2 separate regions of the Homo sapiens genome follow, and region 1 is linked to region 2. A link means that fine-mapping ties the variant in region 2 to the expression of a gene that starts in the linked region. Tissue or cell type: sigmoid colon. Region 2 holds a variant in brackets; the other region holds the start of a gene. All regions are shown on one strand. Distances are between the middles of the regions.

Evidence for each region. PIP is the estimated chance that this variant, and not a neighbour inherited with it, causes the effect.
Region 1: it holds the start of CCK, and the variant in region 2 is fine-mapped to the expression of CCK in sigmoid colon (GTEx, PIP 0.94).

The regions. Positions count from the first base shown.
Region 1 is chr3:42,262,395-42,269,562 of GRCh38, forward strand. It overlaps CCK (cholecystokinin), which reads right to left and starts at 3,791. Exons shown (of 5, transcript NM_000729.6): 1 at 3,290-3,791; 2 at 2,875-3,043; 3 at 2,303-2,513; 4 at 1,023-1,238. The coding sequence starts at 1,236.
Region 2 is chr3:42,331,309-42,339,043 of GRCh38, forward strand. No RefSeq gene overlaps it. Among named protein-coding and RNA genes, the nearest start is that of CCK, 69 kb to the left of the region's middle. The variant C/G (reference allele first, on the strand shown) is at 4,325.

The sequences.
Region 1 (7,168 bases), 69 kb before region 2:
TTTTTAGTAGAGATGGGGTTTCACCATGTTGGTCAGGCTGGTCTCGAACTCCTGACCTCATGTGATCCACCTGCCTCAGCCCCCCAAAGTGCTGGGATTACAGGTGTGAGCCACTGCTCCTGGCCTGCTGAATTCTTTTAATGTCCAGCTGTGTTTGTACTGTTCAGCACACTGCTCCACAGCCGGTGTTCATCATTAGTGTCACTGGGGATAAAGTTGGCAGAAAAAAGCTGCCCCAATCCAAAGCATGATTCCTATGGGTCACAAGAGATGAATGGGCCTCCCTCTGAATCACACAAAGAATTGGAAGGAGCTTAGGGGAAAGCTAGCCTCAGGTCAGAATTGCCTGCATGCCACTCGGCTAGTGAGCTGCTGAATCACCTTATTCCTGGAGAAAGACTTTGATGCTGAGAAAACTGACTTGCTCAGCTCTTGCTACAACTGTGACCATCTCTGCAACAGTAAAGTAAAAACAAATACCTCTCTTGTTGGGTAATAATTTGTAAGTCATTGCAAGGAGAACACAAAACTGCTGCTGATTCTTTCCTTCTGTTACATACTTTGGTGGAAATGGACACATTGTCACTGCTTTTTTAAACTGTTGTAGCCAGATCTCAGGCATTCTCAGCATTGACCCCTTCCTGCTAGAGGATTTCCAAGGGTTGGTATCTGGGTGGCTCCAAGGTCCTTTGCGTTTTCAGTAGAGGGTATTCACTGTATCTAGGAACCCTTTCCTAGGCTTCAATAATTATCTTTTAATGGCTTGGTAAAATGGTGTTGAACTTAATCAGCAACACTGCTAAAAATTAGTTCAAAGAAAGCTTTTCAAGAAGGTTCCCCTTACTTATAAATTAAGTCCTCCATACCCCTTCTCAGATTGCTACAAAGGACCGCCAGAAATCATGTTGCTTGTTTCCTACCGAGAGAGGTCATCCCCATCAGGCTAGCGCTAGAGAAGAGGGTCAGCATCGGGAGCCTGGGAACAAGGGCAGAAGTGAGGGATGGGGAGGCAGCATTCTTACCTTTCCGGGCCTGCTGGATGTATCTTGCCAGCAGGGCGCCCAGGTGCGCTCGGGACTCGCCATCCGTTCTCTGCGATACCCTCAGCTGCCTACGGGGCGCCTCCTCTGCCCGCTGCAGCCCGGAGCCCGCGGGATCTGCGGGAGGCACCGGCTGCGTCAGGGCGCCAGCCGCCAGTACCGCCATCAGCACGCACAGGCACACGCCGCTGTTCATGGCTGTAGCGAGCAAAGGAGGAGGGCGCGTTAACTGAAAGGCTGGGCAACAGAGCTCCTGCGGCGGGCCGGGCACCCAGAAGCGGGCTTAGGACAAACACAGGTGCTCCAGACCCGCCAGGCCGCCGCAAGCACGAGGGCTCGCCAAGCGCTGACCCCAGCCGAGTGCCATGGCGCGCGCCCCCGGGCGCACCTGGCTGGTCTTTGGGAACTCCTCACCCAGCGCCAAGGGGCAGAGACCCTGTTTTCTGCCGTGTTGAGCAGAAGGAATGTTTTTGCTTTCCTAAAGTTTGAGGAAGTGTTTGCAGAGTGCCTCTCTTCTAACCGAAAGAAGAAAAATAAAACCCCACGAGATTAAAAATAGTGTGAAAAAAATATCCTAAAGGGAAGACTCCGTGGGAGAAATGAGAACCCTGGGGAAAGCACTTTTCCAGATAGCTAACAAGCTTTCAATATGGAAATACAGTAAATGATGAAAAAGAGAAGCACAGTTTAAAATGTAGGAGCAATAAATAAAGCCGTATTTATAAAGTTTTTCTCAAAGTGTACGTGGGAAATGGCAATAAGCCACTACGCAGAACATAGGCAGGTTTTAAAATCAGAAATATGTGCCCAGCGCTCAGGCTTCGAAAGCCCCGTGCATTTTAGATCGCTAGTGGATAAAACACCCTCAAGTTTCTATCCGTAAAGCCTCGAAATTTTCTGCAGTATTTAGAAAATGAATTTAAATCTTAAAACCCTCTAATATTTTATTAGAAAAGATTGCAAAGTCCCCCGCACCGCTGTGTAACAGCTAGCAAACTCAATCTGCATGCGAATCTTAGCGAATGGGTAGTTCATCCCTTAATGATGCTGGCGTATGAAAGGCTCTAAAGCAGCTCTACCCACCCAGACCTCACTTTTAGACCCAGAGCCGTTATTTCTGACTTCAAGAAATGTCTTTCGAGCTCTCGGAGGGAAGACACAGAAAATAGAAAAGCATAATGGAAATGGGCACAAAGCTGAAGACAGCATCCTTCAAAGACACACGACACTTGGATCCCCCGCTGACGAACCGAGGGACCTACCTTTTGGATTAGGACGCAGCTGGCTTGGCGTTTCCAACCGGAGCAGCCCGGCAGCTGAGCCAAGTTCAGGGAGGACCAGCGGGCGGCTGTCTCTTAAATAGCCCCACCCGGCGGCGTCGGCCAGTCATGTATTTACCCAACGCTGACGCAGACTGGCAGTAACACGTGCTCAGAGGGCGGCCACTGGGGCGACAACCGGTTGAAGTGGCTCCTGGGAGAGAGGGGGAGGTGGTCTAGTGGGGTGGAGTTAATCCCTCCCACGCGCGGTGCCGGGTGTCCGCCCCCTCTGGGTCCGAGAAGCTTCCGCCCAACCCTTTCCAGGTGCCGCTCCCCTGCGCATTCCAGAGCAGTACTCTCCAAGGTGGGAAACCTAGGAGTTTGGAGTCTCCTCCGGGATGGAGAAGCTGCCGCTAGCTTAGTTCGCTTTGGGGACCGGAGGGGCTAGAAAGGAAACTGGGGGCGGGGGTGGGGGGTGGACACTGGGCAGGACTGAGCATCAGCAAGGCGTGATTCTGAAAGGGAGGGGGCGTCGGCCCCCTACCCCGGAGCGTCCGAGGCGCTGGTCTTCATACCTGTGTCGGCTCTTTCGAAGGAGAGAGGAGGAGTCGGGGTCTTCACTTTCTTCTCAGCCGCATTAAAAGCCCTCGCAGTTCTCCAGGTTTCCGAGGGCCAGTGTTCTGGGTCAGTGAAAGGGCTCTGGCCACAGCTGGCTCTTGGTGTCCTGGGCCTCTCTTGACGCAGCTGTAAAATGCGGATGACACCATCTGGTTTTGCTCAGAGGAATCCGGTTTGGGAAAGGGATGTGTTTTCTTCCCGGGCCAAGTTACCACCACCCGCGGCGCCCACTGTTCCCCGTTGTCGACAAGCGGCGCCAGCGAGGGTCCTGGGGAACTTGACCACCGCACCCCCGCAAGCTCGGGTAGACCACGGCATCCGCCCCTCGCACCTTTCCTGAGGGCCCACACACTCACACCCCCAGGACAGTACCTTCCAGAACTCAGCTGCGCAGCCTGGAGGTGAGGACCTCACCCCTAGTCAGTCACCCGTCCGGTGGAGGGAAGGGAGGCACCGAGGCTGCCGTGCGCCTTTCCCTGCACGCGGTTACTCTCCCGGCTCCGGAGCGGGCCGACCTGGAGCCCCTCAGTGCGCTCTGGTCGTCTACACCCTGAAACCCTTTGAGTTCGAGTCCGCTTGCTGGTGCTTGAGTTCGCCGCGTCCCTGCAAAGGCACTGCCAACCCCATTTCACAGACCGCAAACCGAGGCGCGAGGAAGAGCAGCGCCTTGCCAAGGCTCCACAACACGCCCCTCGCCCTCTCCGTGCACCGAGGCCGCCCAGCCTGGGACCTGGAGATCACCAGGCCTTGAACCTTGGGACCTCAACTCCTCTCCCTTTCTTTCCCCCACCCGTCTTAGATGCAAGGAGAAAGATTTAGAAGCGCTTATTTTAAAATCGGAATCCGTATTCCGCTCTGGAATTCCCTCTGGAATGGAGGGACTGTGGCAACGCCAGTGTGAGGGTGGAGTGGGCGAGGCGGGGTGGGGGGGTTGGGGGGGCGGCCCAGAGACGCCTCCGGTTGCTGCTCCACTTTCTAATCCTGAGAGGCAGCTGCGTTTCTGCAACCTATGGGCAACATGTTTGAAAGAGCTGAAGCTGATTAAATGCTTTCCAGTGGTTTCGCCACGAGCCTGCTAAGGTTTGTGTAGTTCAGTTGCGAAAAAGAGTCTTATTTGTGATTGTGGCAAGACATGTCTGGAAACATAAACTTGTTATCGAAATACCCCCAGAGCTTCTAATTCAGTAGGTCTGAGGAAGGGCCCAAGAATCCGAATTCCTTCCTTCCTTCCTTCCTTCCTTCCTTCCTTCCTTCCTTCCTTTCTTCCTCCTTCCCTCCTTCCCTCCCTCCCTCCCTTCCTTCCTCCCTCCCTCCCTCCCTTCCTCCCTCCTTCCCTCCCTCTCTCCCCTTCCCTCTTTCCCTCTCTCCCTTCCTTCCTTCCTTCCTTCCTTCCTTCCTTCCTTCCTTCCCTCCCTCCTTCCTTCCTTCCTTCCCCCCTCCCTCCCTCCGTCTCTCCTTCTCCCTCTTTCCCTCTTTCTCTCTCTCTTTCTTTCTTTCTTCTTTATTTCTTTCTTTCTTTCTTCATTTCCTTCCTTCCTTCCTTCCTTCCTTCCTTCCTTCCTTCCTTCCTTCCTTCCTTTCCTTGCCTTTCCTTCTTTGAGACAGAGTCTCACTCTGTCGCCCAGGCTGGAGTACAGTGGCATGATCTCGGCTCACTGCAACCTCTGCCTCCCAGGTTCAAACGATTCTCCTGCCTCAGCCTCCCCAGCGGCTGGGATTACAGGCATGTGCAGCCATGCCTGGCTAATTTTTATATTTTTAGTAGAGACAAGGGTTCACCATGTTGGCTAGGTTGGTCTCGAACTTCTGACCTCAGGTGATCTACCCACCTTGGCCTCCCAAAATGCTGGGACTACAGGCGTGAGCCACCACGCCCCACCAAGAATCTACATTTCTAACAAGTTCCCAGGCCATACTGAAAATGCTAGTCCGCCAAGCACACTTTGAGATCATTTCTATAGAAATTCCCTACCTTATACCAGTTACTCAACTCCTGGCCTTGATCCATTTAATTCATGTTTATTCAACACTTACTTTGTGCCAGGCCCCAGGGATTCAGTATGAACAAGAGCTGACAATACAATAGGGGAGCTGAAGCAAACAAGTGGACAAACACTTCTCAACAATTCTGATATTTGGGGACTATGGAGTGGAGATGGTAGGAGGTAATCTTGGAGAAATGTTTTGGTGAGGGGAGCTAGGTGGTAATATGGAAGATGCCCAAAAGGCAGAGGGACTGGAAGGGGAGGGCTGGATAGGAGGCCCTCGGGGATGGGCAAGCAGGAACAATCAAGGTAGATTTGTTTTAGAATAATAAGCCATTATGAAACCCATTAATTATTAGGAAACATAATAAACATTATGCAAGTCATAAGTGTTCATCAGAGAACATTCAGAAAACAAAAGTAGAGAAAAGAAGAAAAATTCCAGCCTCCCAGGGAACAACCTGTTGCTGCTCAGGAAACTGGTAGAGGGAACCGGACTTGGTGACTGAGACTGACCTTGAGTTTCCAGGCTGGGAGACAAGGGTGGGTGGTAGAGTATTATCCAAGACAGGGAATTCAGAAGGAAAAGCAGGCTTGGAGTGTGGCCGTGGTGGTAGTGGGCCAGTGGGGAGCGGGTAATGAGTCCAGTATGGGATTGGTTGATCGTTTGTGCATTGACAGTCTAGGAGGAGTTTGGGAGCCTTTGTCCTGAGCAGAGAGACACTGGAGGGGTGGACCCAGAGTCTGGCATGTGGGTGGTGGCTGCCAGCCTGGGAGTTATAGGGAGAGTTGAGGAAGGCAGCTAGCAATGGGTGGCAGGGTGCCTCTAGACAGACCGCTGAGGAGTGACAGCGTGAAGGAGTGGGTGGAGGAAAAAGAGCTGGTACAGAACCAGACAAGTGGGCCAAGGAGGCCAGCGTGGAAATGCCAGTGCAGAGCCAGAGGTGACAGGGACCATCAGAAGCTGAAGAAGGGCTTGTGCATGGGCCTTTCTCATTTACGATCAAGAGAGCTGCTTGCCTCTTTATTGTAAAATAAAGCAGTTGTAGCCGCTTGTCTCTCAGGAGTGGAAATTCTGAGCAGGAAATGTGTGATAGAAGAGCTGCTAGGAAAATAGAAAGACATAAGGGATCTGAACTCCTTGGCCATAGTCATGATTTTTCCTTCTTACAGGGTCAACAGGTACTAATTATTCTGACTATGGTTCCTAAGCAAGTTAGGCCTGGAGCCGACACTATTCCTGTAATCCAGATGCATATCCGCATTAAAGATAATCCATTTGTTCACTTAAAAAAATGGGCTTGATGTCTCCTGAGGCAGATGCCTTTGGTGCTCCTCACCACAGTTCCACGTTCTCCCTCTGGCTTCAGCTGCAGCCTAGCCAGGCTGGGCAGTTTTCAGCAGACAGCATTCCCACTTCAAGCTTTCAAAGCACCCCTCTTGGCTTATCTCCTTCAAAGTTCAGCCCTTGCAGAGGTTCAGCCTGTAAGTTTGGGTGTTATCTCCCCGAAAGACAATCTTCAGCCAGTGGGGAATGGGAACCCCAGTCTCTCTGTATGAACCCTTCTGGAAGCTTCTAAAGACTTCTCAACGGTCCTTTGCCTGTATCGGTGAACTTGATAACAGCTCTCTCTCTCTTTTTTTTTTCTCTCTCTCTCTCCCTCTCTCTCTTTAGACAGGGTCTTACTCCGTCACCCAGGCTGGAGTGCAGTGGTGCAAACCCGGCTTCCTGGCTTAAACAATCTTCCCACTTCAGCCTCCTGAGTAGCTGGGAACACAGGTGCACACCACCATACTCTGCTAATACTTTAATTTTTTGTAGAGACAGGGTCTCACCATGTTGCCTAGGCTTGTCTCAAATTCCTAGGCTCAAGTAATCCTCCCTTCTCAGTCTCCCAAAGTGTTGGGATTACAAGTGTGAGCCACCAAGCCCAGCTGATAACATCTCTTTAGTTGTTTTTTCCTCCTTCTTTGTCTTACTCTTCTCATTTCTTCCTCCTCTCCCAAATAAACGACATGTACTCAAGTCTGTCTAATTTTAGTATAACCCTATCAAAGACACCAACTGTCTTTCGGGCACTGTTGGGATTCAGTGGTGAGCAAGACAGACAAAATCCCTGTGCTTGTGATGCTTCCATTCTAGTGGAGGAGACAGACAATTTAAAAAATACACAGCAGGCATGGAAGGTGCACACATGTTTTCAAGAAAAGTAGAGTAGGGGGAGGGTCTGTGGAGGACTGGGCACCCGCATGAACGTATGCAAAC
Region 2 (7,735 bases):
GGTGGATCACTTGAGGTCAGGAGTTTGAGAACAACTTGGCCAACATGGTGAAGCCCTGTCTCTACTAAAAATACAAAAATTAGCCTGGTATGGTGGCGCATGCCTGTAATTCCAGCCACTCGGGAGGCTGAGGCAGGAGAATCACTTGAACCCGAGAGGCACAGGTTGCAGTGAGCCGAGACTGCTCCACTGCACTACAGCCTGAGCAACATGAGTGAAACTCCATCTTGAAAAAGTAAATAAAATAAAATAAATAAGTAAAAATAAAAATAAAAGAAATTGACCACATCCAAAGCATCTCACGGCCTGCACTCTTCTCCAACTCCCAGGCTGGAAGCCAAGGGATGTTAGTGGGGTTCTGTTGGGCAGCAGGTCTTCCATGGTTTTCTCCCTACAAGTGCTTCCTTTACTTGTAGTGAGTTATGCATCAGTCAGCCCATCTCTGGATCTGATCTCATTTCACCATGAAGATATTCCTGAGTGTTTCTGGCATTGGGAAGTATTATTTCCCAGCTTTCACTTATATTTCTTTGACCATCCTAATTGAAATTTGAAAAAAGGATGAGGGGTTTTAAAGAATAGGTTTAGAAGAATGGTTCCCAAAATTTAGTATAAATTAGAATCATCTGAGAGTCTTTTTAAAATATAGAGACCTGGGTTCATCCCAAGTAATTTTTAACATAACTTTTCCCCAATTATATTAACAATGCATATTCATTGTTGAAATTTTGAATAAAAAAGTATATAGAGAAACACTGTTTTGAGAATAAAACCACAGACTTGAAAAATTTTGAAATGTGACCTTTGGGGGAGTTTCCTCCAGCCAGAAGTAGATGATAGTTTCACCTCATTTATTTTTTATATATAACACAAGATTCCTTCCCACTTTTCAGAAAGTGTTTTGAGAGCTATAGGAGGAGGTCCTTGTATTTAAACAAACAAAAAAAGAAATACATGAAAGTTAGAATATACATTTGAAAAGTATTCAAGTATACATTCTGATAGTAGGGTGAGTAAAGTTAAAAAAGGTAAAATATAAGTAAGAAAGGTGGTTTAGATATATATTAGTAATGGAATTACAGAATTTGTTTAGCATTTTTAGCTTTTAGAATATATGACATAAAACTCTTAGGAAGAAGGTACTGATTTCCCTCATCAACACACACACACACACACACACACACACACACACACACACACACAGGCTTACATAGTTTCACAATTCATTAATCAGCAAAATGTGGGGAATATTCTTCAGTATTTTTACTTTGTATAATATGTGAAACTGATTTAAATTGTATTTGATGTTTTATAGCTGCTGTTTAATGTAACAGTACACTGTGAAAATGTGCTTCTGTCAATAAATATACTAGATCATATCTATCAGTGGTTGCATCATACTTCCTTTGTATTCATCAGGATAGGCTAGGTTATGTTGCAGTAACAAGCAATCACCAAATCTCACAGTGTATTTTTCTTCAGGTTACTTGTGGGGACTCTGCTGCTCTATGTCACTGTTGACATTATTCCTTGACCCTGGCTTACAGAGCAACCATATTTAGAACATTGCTGGTCACCGCAGCAGAGTGAGCAGAGAGCTTGAAGGTCTAGCACTGTTAACCAAACACTTGGATTGGGATGAACACATATTACTTTTGCTTACAATTCATTGGATAGAATAGGTTGCATGACCTTACCCAAGTAGAAGGGGCCAGGAAATGCAGTCCTGTGATATATCCCAAAGGTGAAGAATCAACCAGAAATATTCAGTGGGCAGCATTAATGACTACTACATATACATGTGCTGTAATTTATTGAACCAGTCCCCTATATTTGTACATTTATTATATTTCTGCTTTCTCTTTTATGATAATTAGCATCCTTATAAATAAATATTGCTTGGTTTCTTCTTGGTAGCAGAATTTCTAGATCAAAGTATACATATATTTTAAGGCTTTTGTTCCATATTTAACAAATCACACTCTAGAAAGGTTTTATCTGTTTATAGCCTTACTGGATATTGGACACACTACCTCAAGTCCCAGGAATCAAACTCTAAGGTCTCCAGAAAAGCTCTGTGGGAGGAATCCTCTGTCTCATGGATGTCCCCTGTCTGCCCACATTTGTGTGTTCTGGGTCTGGGAACCTACAACACTCTGTCTGTTGTAGGTTCAAGCTTTTATGATAATATCTCTATTTTCTTTACTCTTGAAATAAAATTGGTGCATGCTGAGTCCTTGGTCCCAACGCTTTCCTCCCAGACACTGCAGAACTGCAGATGTTACTCTACTGCTTTCTGGAATGCAGTGCTCTAAAGAGGAGGTTGGAACTTTTTGTCTCTTATAATTTACTTTTTTTTTTTCAGACAGGGTCTTGCTATGTTGCTCAGGCTGGTCTTGCCTCAAGCAATCCTCCCACCTCGGCCTCCCAAAGTGCTGGGATTGCAGGTTTGAGCCACCACACCTAGCTATTATTTGCTCTTGTTGTTTGAAGATTTAGTCTTATGAATAAAGTACCTATTCATTTATCAACCATATATCAGAACTTACCCCTCAAAAGTGGCCCCCATTTATTTTGCGACAGGGGGCAGTGTTCAAAGTTTTGTCTTGTATTGTTCACAAACTGCCATGTGGCATGTGCCTTTCTCTTCCTTTCTCTTCCTATTTGTTTCCATTGCTTCCTGCAAAGCTGCCTGGAGAGGATCCTTAGTTGTCAGGGCCTATCTTTAGTGATTTTGGAACTTGCATTCTATCCTGTCACTGTCTTCTGGGAATGTACCACCCCTTCATAAACATACACACACAGAACTCAATTTTTGTTGTTTGCCTATATATATATATAACTTGCCCAATTTTGTTTTGAAGCTGACCAATCCCCAAATTTATTGGGAGTAGCATAATGAGCCAGAAATCACTTTGGCTGGGGCAGCTTGATACACACTGTAAATGCATGACAGCCCTCAGCATGTGGGCTTAATGGATAAATGAGGAGTGGAGTGAGCAAGTCTGGGGAAGCTTAGCCATAGAGGCTTGTTTCATTGCCATCCACGTACTTGTGAGCATCAGCTACAAAGGACGGCAAGTTGTTAGGAAGATCTCCATCCCCTGCCACTGGGAAAATTTTTCTTGTTTGGTAGGGAACCCAGAGAAATTCCTCTTTAGTTACAGGGGGAGGGGGCATGCCTTCAATTAACAAAACTGAGTTTGGGTAATGCTTCCTTTAAAAACTTTCTTTTAAAAAGCGTGGGTCTGTCTATGATGAACATAATAAATTTTTATTGCAGACATTTTGGAAAATTTTTTAAAGCATCAAAGAAAACAACGATCAGTCATAATTCACCATCTAAATATGACTACTCTTAGTTTTTTACAAATTCTTTTACTTTTAAAAATGAATATATGCTAGATGTCTTATAAAAGTGTGATTGTATTGATGTGAAGTTTTATATCTTGCATGTTTCATTTCACATACCTTGAGCATGTATCCTTCTAAACCTGACATTTTTATTCTGAAGTGAAAAACCCTCTCTCTGTCTTTGCAATCCCTTTTTCAGAAGTAATCACTTTAGCAATTTGACACTAAGTAACCACGTTAGCAATTTGACACGTATTCATCCAAGTATTTTCTGTGTTTATACAGATACAAAAAAAAGCTTTAAACCCACGTATCCCTTTTTGTTTGGAATTATGTTCTATGTATGGTTTACTTTTGTTCACTAAACAATGTATTTACTTAGTTATTTACTATTTTTTTTCAGCCTGAGCAACATAGTGAGACCCCAACCCTACAAAAAAATTTTAAAACTTAGTTGGCCTGGTGGAGCACACCTGTAATTTTAGCTACTTGGGAGGCTGAGGCAAGGGAATCACTTGAGCCCAGGATGTCAAGGCTGCAGTGAGCTATGATTGTGCCACTGTACTCCATCCTGTAGATTCTCTTACGTTTTTTTTATTTTTTTATTTTTGGTGACGTCTTGTTGCCAGGGACTAAGAATCCTGGATACCTTCTCAGGGCACAGCAAGGAACTCCATCTCACTTTGAAAAACAGGTACAGAGTATTTCATGAATAATTTATTTAACTATTCATCTACACTTTTAGGTTGGTTCTAATATTTATGTTTTGACTGACAATGTTCGTCTTATTTGTCTAACACTCTGCTAGCCCAGATGATGAGGAAAGTGGTAATTAATTCAGCAAATGGATTAATTACACTCTCATATTAACCACCACCTCTCTTCTGGATATGCTATTTAAAAATACTTATTGCTATTATATCTAATTAGCACTGCATTTGGGTTTTCTACTGTTACTGTTTTAAAAATT[C/G]AAGTAATTTCATGTTTATGATGAAGCTTTTAATGGATTAGATAAAATGGGAATTTACTAAGAAGTTTCTGGGACCCATCTGTGGTAGTGTGAACTAAATATTTGACCCTTGCTCCCACGCTCTGGCTTACAACTCCTAATATCCTTAGAATCTCCAAAGCGAGGTATGCTATTGAGACTGGTGGCTGGCAGCCCCTAGGTAGCTTCAGGATGGGGGCTCATCACAGTGAAGACCAAGGCACAATTAAGAGGGTTGAGACTATTCAGCCCACCCATAACCTCTTGGGAGGAGAGGAGCCAAAGGTTAATTTCACTAAAGGCCAATTAGCTAATCAAGCCCCCATAAAAGCCCAAAAGGACAGAGTTTGGAGTGCCTGTGGAAAGCACACCTCAACTCCATGGGGACAGACACTCCTGTGCTCAGGACAATTCTAGGCCTTCTCAAATGTGTCCCTTCATCTGGCTGTTTATTTGTGGCTGCTCTTCAGTCATATCACCTCTATTCCAGCTGAATTTTACAATTCAAATCCATGATTTTATATTTGTGAGCATTAAATTTTGTCTGGCTTGCTTTGGCCTGTGCTTCCTATCTATTGATCTTCATTTTGTTGAGCAACACAGTTTGCTGTTATCCACAGTTTCCATCTGCAGGCCTTGCTCACCCAGGGTATGCGAGTCATCTGTGGCTGGTACAGAGTCCATGATGTTCCAAGGAGTTACTCATTCCATCTGTACTCATTCAGTCTCCATCTTTTAGGGGTTATGCTATCCAGATGAACAAATATAGGTCCTCAGCTCAGGAACTTCCTTTCTATATAGAAGGAGGCTGGAATGAAGATAGATGGCCATCCCAGTAGAATGTGGTCTATGGCAATAGAAGAAAGTGTTCTGGGGGCACAGGAGAAACATCCAACCATTATGGGATGGCAGAAGGTCACAAAAGACTACCAAGATTCACTGCTTAGTCTTCTACCAAGTTTTTACTGCCGCCCTAATTCTCTTTGCCTCTTTTATGATAACACTCACTTTGGAGGGCCACCCTTCCCTGATTGCTGTCTAAGCCTTTGGGCAGGGGCACCCACTGTCAGCTCCAGGGAGCATTACCCAATCAGTAAATTCCAAAGCCCAAGTTGCCAGACTCAGCATGGAGCAGACATCATGGAAGGGAAGTAAAAATCAAAAGATACATCAATTTATGTGTTCTTTATTCCCTCTGTTTCCCCCTTCCCTTCACCTCATTGAAGTCAGCTTGGTGGTCATTGCTTCATGGGAGGTATGTGGCAAGTCAGAAAACAGAACTACCCTAGAAGTCTTGCTGGCTTTTTATACTTAGAAGTGAATTCCTGAGAATAATTTAGTTGAAGAAACAGGAAAGGAGAAGGATTTTCCCCAGACTAAAAATAGATTGTTCCCGCTGGACGCGGTGGCTCAAGCCTGTAATTCCAGCACTTTGGGAGGCCGAGGTGGGCGAATCATGAGGTCAGGAGTTCGAGACCAGCCTGGCCAACATGGCAAAACCCCATCTCTACTAAAAATACAAAAAAAAAAAAAAATTAGCTGGGTGTAGTGGCGGGCGCCTGTAATCCCAGCTACTTGGGAGGCTGAGGCAGGAGAATCGCTTGAACCTGGGAGGCAGAGGTTGCAGTGAGCCAAGATCATGCCACTGCACTCCAGCCTGGGTGGTAGAGTGAGACTCCGTCTCAAAAAAAAAAAAAAAAATTAGATTGTTCCAGGCTGGGAAGAAGAGAAGAGTGCTGTGGTGGCAGGATTAGAGGTGCATTACCCTGTTTTTTTGGTAGCCCTGTTAGAGCAAGATTCCAGAGAAAGACACATTTCAGAAAGACTTCCAGCACAGGAATAGTTGAGACCTGCCTAGCCTTGAAGGAGTCAGGAGGACAGGATAACAGATGTCATTGTGACTTCCCATAGGTACTGATGACTGAGGACCAAATAGCTTTCCCCTACTCCCAGTGCCTTAGAAAGACCCTAGGCTTGTGTGGGGTTCCCAAGAAAAGCTGAGGTTGTTTTTCTTGTAGCCAAGCAGGGCAATATTTGTATTTTTTGTAGAGACAGAGTTTCGCCCTGTTGCCCAGCCCTCAGGCCCAGGGCTTGAGTTGGAAATTAAGTAGAGTAGTGGACTATAAAGTAAGTTCTAGTTATTGGACTCCTTAGTTCATGAGCTGAAAGGTACACTCATCGCACACCCAAGGATATTTTAATTCCCTTCTGCCCCTATTTCATTCCACCTTCTTTCCTTTCAAATGGTTTCTAAGACAGTGTAATCAAATAATCACCTTGGAGCTCCATCTAACTCATATAGTGTCCATCCTCAAATTTGCTCTGTCCTGTACAGCAGTGTTCTTAGTAAAGCAACATTAGACAAAACTCAGCACCATGGTAGAGAGAGGCAGATCCCACTCTACCCACCCAAACACCACTGGACACACACCAATAGACAGCTTTGAGGACAGACAATCCAAACAGCATTCCAAATCCATTTTTCTGGGTATCAAAAGTCAAAAGAAAGTTATTTAAGTGACTCAAATAGAGATTAAGGCTTTATTCAACGGATACACATCAGAGAGATTAAAGACTTTGTTCAACTGATACATATCAGAGAGCATCTAGAGGACAGCTGACCCTAGATTAAAGTGGGGTTGGGATTTTATAAGACAGGGGAAAGCTGAATGCCTGAACTAGTGGTTTTGGCTTAGGTAGCATTTTTCACTTTCATCAAAACTCATAGTTGGAGGTCATTCCACTTTTGTGCCTCTTGCTTAAGTCATTGGTAAAATTCTAATACTATCAAAATAGTATTTTCTACGAAGTATTTTGGCAAGCCTCGTGGCTTAAGGAAAAAAATTCCTGGACATATTTTAAAAATAATTATACTGAGGTATCTGTGGGAGTTGTTTGCAAAGATGCCGAGGGGACCTGTGGCTCACTGGGCCTGAAGAGCTGTAAACCAATCTGACTTTACATGGATTTGTGATAGAGGTGAGGAAATGAGAGGTTTAGAGGACAGGAGGCTGCAGCCATGACGTTTAAGGCTTTGGAGTTAAGGCAGTTGCAGGTTATGCCAAGTTCTAGGTGGCCATGACTTTCTTTCTGAAGCATTAGGTTGAAGCATATGCAATAATTGACGTTGTTGGTCAAAACCAGTATAATATCAGGAATTTTATAGGGCTCAACCTAAATAAATATGGGCAAAAGTCAATATGGTTGAGTTGCTGAATTTGGTTTCAGGCCAAAGAACCTTGCTTATATATATATCCTCTGTCCCTCTAACAAAACAACTAGCTAGTTTTATCTTTTCACTTTTCTATGTTCACCTCACCTCACTGCTCATTTGCTCTTGGAAACCTGGCTGTTGTGTTGGAAAAAAGTGGATCTAGTTCTGCCTTTGCCATT